2 separate regions of the Homo sapiens genome follow, and region 2 is linked to region 1. The links come from fine-mapping of genetic effects on gene expression. Tissue or cell type: esophagus muscle. Region 1 holds a variant in brackets; the other region holds the start of a gene. All regions are shown on one strand. Distances are from middle to middle. Region 1 has its middle 37 kb from the start of RASEF. Region 2 holds the start of RASEF (RAS and EF-hand domain containing).

Region 1 (2,918 bases):
GTGCTTACCACCAGGAGTGTAGGGTCCTTGGCCCTGCAATGTCCGCACCTGCAGACCCCGAATATCAGGAGTGTCCCCAAGGTTTCTGAGGCCTGCCTAGTCAGGAACCTGGAAAATTTATAAGAGGTAACTGTGCTTAATGTTGCTGTCTTCAAAATGGTGAGAGTTTCTGGACTCAGAATGACTTTTTCAGTGGTCTCCATGTTTCTATATTGCCAGAATATAAGGCTAGTAATGCTTTTGTAGCTTCCTCATGTCATCGTGAAGTAATGAACTGAAATGCACATTTAAAGGGGGACAGAATCTCCTAGTATCTGTGTGATAAGAAGGGTTTGCACATTGGATTATGACTACTCAAAAAAAGAAATATTTGAAACTGGAGGAGCAAATGTAATTCTCCTAAGGAAACATTGCTATTTAGTAGGTAATATACCTAATAGTTGACCAATCAACTGAATCTTTTGCCATTTGTGTAACTGAACTAACATTTACAGGAATCAATAAAACTATGAAAAACATAAGAGATAATAACAATGATAATAGTTATCATTTATTGAGCCCATTCTATGTTCCAGGAACTGTACAGGGCACTTGTTATAATATTATTTCATTAACTTCCTCTCTTCCCTGTGTCAGAAGTAGCAGCATCTCCAATTTGCAGGCAGAATGATTGAGGTTCTAGGAGTTGCAAGAGGTATGGTACAGGTCACAAAGCTAGCAAGCATGGAACCAGGCTTTCTGATTTGTTATCATGAAATCCCATTGACTTCCTTCTGTATGGAAGGAGAGGGGGTATACTTCTCCTTCCAAATATGATTAGTTAAAAATGATATGACAATGAGATGGGCTGATTTTCATAAACTGAATATTGATTCACATAATATTCTGTGAATTTAGAGTGGAGAGTATTTCTGGCTGAGAACAGATGATCACCATGTAACTTTTGTAAGCTTTGTGATACTGGTTGGTTGAAAGCCAGTGAAAAGATGTTCTGATGTAAGCAGCTGAATGAAAAATTTTATGAGTTCAGTTTTATCTTTTACTAGCTTCATCTTGGGCTCTGAGCTGTTCTTGCCTTGAATGCTCTCTGAAGAAGCAATGAGAGAACAATACTATATTTCTTTTTCTTTTTAATAGAAATGTCATATACTTGAAAGAAGTTATTCATTAAAAGTTGAAAGTCTGTTCTCAGCTTGCTAGATAATGTATTTAGATATATTTGGGAAAGTCTTTCACAAGCTCAAAGTTCTGGGAAGAAATAAA[G/A]TCTCATTCTTAGTCTGTTTTCACTCAAAACTGCAAACACACAGCAACAGTAGCTTAATCTTACTCAATTTCTAGACATTCACTTTTAATGCACGAAAAACTCTTAAATTAACAATATGTACATAATGTTGGATTGCTTGATATCTTAAATAAGATGATGGATGCTGTGCTATTGCTTAAATTATTTGCATCTGATTTCATAAGTGCTGTATCACCATAATATTTGAGGTCACTTAGTTACTTTAAGCATAATATGGGATAAGCACTTCCATGACTCTCTTGATTTTTATTTTCCAATGGGGATTCTGCAGATTCTGGCACTAATGTATGCAAGCTCACAAATTTAGAGGCTGCCCCCAAAATATCTTTGTGCGTGCTCCAGGTGCTGCTCACCAAGCAAAGCGCAGTTCCTGGGACAAGGTCAGTGCTTCATAAATGTGTGCTGAGGACTAGACTGAGACCAGGTCATCAAGACCATCTCATGGCAAATTATGTATAAATTGAAATTTTGTGAATCAAGTCTCATTTTAACTACTGAGTAAGGGCTTGCTATATTTTGGAACTATGCCTCAAATTATTTGTAAAATGAATAGCTACTTCTTGATTTACCTGCTATATAAGTTTGACTTTCTCTTACATAAAATTACCTTAAAGGGTGGATCACCTGAGTATATGAGAAAATAACTTAGCGTAACACGGTATGGTGAACAGGATCTCGCCTATGATTTTCCATCTTTTTATGCCCTGGAACATCAGACCCTTTCTGTGATGTTCTCTGAATGCCAAGCTTTTCAATAAGTTCTTAAAAGAGTCATCATGGAAGAAAAACATGCTAACTTTGCCCTTGAGATTTTTTCAGCTTTGGAGTTTAAGGTTTTAAAAGTGGGCTTTTGTAGTCACTTATGTAGAGAGCATAAGTATATATATGTGCACTTAAATCAGACTATAACAGGTACAGGGAATATTACAGCATAATAATGAGACATCATAGATATATGGATAGATAGAACATATAATAAATATAGATATATGGAAAGACAGAGATAGATGTCAGGGTGGATGAAGGATATAGAGGATTTGATTATCCTTTCTCTGTGGGTGTGTACATCTACAATAAGCCACTATTCTCAGATCCTGCTCTATTATAAATTATGAGAGGAAAAATCTGGGTCTGTGTTCAGTTCCTAGAACCATCTGATATGGTTTGGCTCTGTGTCGCCACCTGAATCTCACCTTGAATTGTAATAATCCCCATGTGTTAAGGGTGGGGCCAGATGGAGATAATGGAATCATGGGGGGTTTTCTCCCTTCCTGTTTTCACGGTAGCAAATAAGACTCACAAGATCTGATAGTTTTATAAATGAGAATTCCCTGCACAAGCTCCCTCTTTGCCTGCTGCCATGTAAGATGTGACTTTGCTCCTCCTTGCCTTCCACCATGATTGTAAAGCCTCCCCAGCCATGTGACACTGTGAGTCAATTAAACCTGTTTCTTTTTTAAATTACTCAGTCTTGGGTATGCCTTTATCAGCAGTGTGAGAATGGACTAATACATCATCTTAGTTGCAATTAGGCACTTAATAATTTTATGATTATAATGATATTAGGGAGATAAATAAAATCTTTCTGTCAACAGAGTAGAAAGTAGTCATAATC
Region 2 (2,918 bases), 37 kb after region 1:
CCAAGCCAGCTACTTTTAAATTCATATGGAAAAATCAATCTTTAGAATAAACAGGAAAGCACATAAGCTCAAAATCAATAACAACTTACATTGCACTAATGATAAGATTCATTGTATTAGCTGTCCAACTGTATACAACTATATTCACTTAGCAATTAGGTTGCTAAGACCAGGACTTCTAATGGAATGCCTCTCATAATTTACCAGTTAAATTTTCAGATGGGGGTTATCAGTAGTAGTTACAGTTTAATAGAAGCTGTTAGTGTTGACCATGTTTATTGTACAATTCAAGAGGAAATAGTTCCCCAGATGTTTAGCACTTAGCTTTATGTTTAAGAACACTAGCCTAGTAGGAACGTGTCAGTAATATCCCTTACTTAATGATCACATTTTTAAAAAATCAAAGTAATAAACGATAAAGAGAATCCAGAATGAGATAAAAGAAAAATACAGAGTCAGAAAGTCTAAAATGTGGAGGAAATGGATAATGTAAATAAAGTAAAAATGAGCCAAATATATCTTCACAGGCTATGAGAATCGCCTAAAGGCACGGTTACATAAGCCGTATGACAGACTGAGGGTCTCCTGGAAAAGGATGGAAAAAGTGTTTAAAAGGATCAAAATGGGTGGATTTTAAAGATCTCATATCCATTAAGCAGTGTTAAAGAAACAATAGTATTGTCGAAAAAAGTGTTTAAAACCAAAGGGTAACCTACCTTTGGATATGTAATTTCCATAAAGTTTGTTTAAGTAAAAAAACCTACAAAACGACCTCAGTCTTTGTTTAAACAATGCTGTCTGCCAAACGATTTTGTTTATCAAATTTTTTCTCAGGTTTTGGAGACAAGGATTGAGAAAAAATGTGGAATTGGAGATCTGGAAGATCTGTGTTTAAGCAGTGGGACCTTAACGTTAGACGCACAAAAATGCGTTAACGAAAGCCAGTAAAATTGAGAATGGGGTCTTCTGGTAAATCTTGTACTTTGGTTTGTAAGAAACTTCTATATAAAGAAGTTTATCAAGTTTCGGGAGTAAGATAATAAAATGCACTTAACCCATTCGGAATCCTACCCCTACCTACCTTACCTCTGTGCGGTTAGCTTCTGACGCGCGCGCCAGCACGTTCTGTGGAGAAGCGGAGCGCTGGGCTCTACCTGAGCAGCGCTTACGCCGAAGGGCAATGCTCCCCCCGAATCCCAGTTCCGGCCAGCCAGGTCTCCCCCACCTGCGCGGCAAGCAGCGGTGGACTCCGGGGCGTGGGAACTGGAGAAGCGGTGGCGCGCGCTCCTCCTCCCTGGCTGGGCGGAGCTGCACCCGCCGGGAAAGTGGCGAGAGCCACCTCGGCGCTTGGGCGCTCAGTCGCAGGAGGCGCTCCTTGGCGGTGCCTGGAGCCCGGGCGCACCCCACCGCTCCCGGGACCTGTTGGGGGCTGGCCCGAACCGTCGTCGAAGGGAGCCGCTCGGCCACCCCCGACGTTCCTCGCCCCGCCCGACGTTCCCTCAAGTGGCCGAACCAGCCGGACGAGCCAAACTCGCCGGGCCTCCCGGCGGCAGCAGGTGGCCCCGTCCTTCCAGGGAGGGCCCTGCGCCCCGCGGCGCTCCGGAGCCCTCTCGGCCGCCCCCGCCAGGCGGGATGGAGGCGGATGGGGACGGAGAGGAGCTGGCCCGGCTGCGCTCAGTCTTCGCCGCCTGCGACGCGAACCGCTCGGGGCGCCTGGAGCGCGAGGAGTTCCGGGCACTGTGCACGGAGCTGCGGGTGCGGCCGGCCGACGCCGAGGCAGTATTCCAGCGGCTGGACGCCGACCGTGACGGCGCCATCACCTTCCAGGAGTTCGCGCGTGGCTTCCTCGGGTCCCTCCGCGGGGGGCGGCGCCGGGACTGGGGTCCTCTGGATCCCGCGCCCGCCGTGTCTGAGGCGGGGCCGGAGACACACGACAGCGAGGAGGACGAAGGCGACGAGGACGCGGCGGCGGCGCTGGCCACCTCGTGCGGCCCGGCGAGTCCCGGCCGGGCTTGGCAGGATTTCCAGGCGCGACTTGGGGACGAAGCCAAGTTCATTCCCAGGTGCGAGTGTGAGCTGGGGGCGGGAGGTTATTCTGGCGCTTCCTGCTTGCTTCTTCCCACTTACTTGCAGGTGTGCAGACCCAATGGCCCCCCCCCCTAGTCTTCTCTGTGAGTTGCTTGTCTTCCTTCACCTACTCGCTTTGACTTTTCCAAGATCCGCTAGAGTTAAGAAAAAGGAGTCAGAGAGTCAGCGTTTGGGGAGAAAGTTTTACGTGCTGAATCCTGAGCCTGCAAAGGGCGGCGTGTTCATTACAGGAGCTCTCCTGAAATCTGCAGCTGCTGGCGCCCCGCGCGAGTTTAGGCGCGCGCGCCACATCTCACCGCGTCCTGGTTACGTCACCTTCTACCCCAGGCCTTAGGCTCTCACCCCAGGGCTGGGGCCCGGGCTGTTTGCCAATTTGGCGTCCTCTGTAATAGTTTTCTGATTTGTCGTTTTCCTAAGACTATAGAAAAGGAAACTTTGTTGGGCTTTTACATTGCTGGACACAAATATTGATTGATGTACCTGCTAGGCATTTTACAGAGTTCACGCATTTAATTTTCATAACATCCCTAGAAGGTAGGCTAGCTTATTTCTGAACTTAGACCTAGAAATTAGACAGACGTTAAGGGACTTGCCCAGTTAAACAGCAGAGATTTGACCCAAATTTTGTGAACTGAAAAACTCACTTTTTATGTGACGGAATAAAATGATAAAATGACACAGTATATTCTCTGCTCTTACTGCTCTGACAGAAATAACGTGTCAAGTCACGGACTTAATTATCAGGAGGTAAGGGGATGCCTGCAGGTGGGATTTCAGGGCCTGGAGGGAGAGAGGCTCAGATTTTCTTTTTGAGTTTCGTTTGCATTTGT

Evidence for each region. PIP is the estimated chance that this variant, and not a neighbour inherited with it, causes the effect. A credible set is the group of variants that fine-mapping cannot tell apart.
Region 2: it holds the start of RASEF, and the variant in region 1 is the best candidate, but not a certain one, in a credible set for the expression of RASEF in esophagus muscle (GTEx, PIP 0.59).

The regions. Positions count from the first base shown.
Region 1 is chr9:83,098,470-83,101,387 of GRCh38, reverse strand. It overlaps a transcript of RASEF not described here. Among named protein-coding and RNA genes, the nearest start is that of RASEF, 37 kb to the right of the region's middle. The variant G/A (reference allele first, on the strand shown) is at 1,264.
Region 2 is chr9:83,061,582-83,064,499 of GRCh38, reverse strand. It overlaps RASEF (RAS and EF-hand domain containing), which reads left to right and starts at 1,358. Exons shown (of 17, transcript NM_152573.4): 1 at 1,358-2,063. The coding sequence starts at 1,633.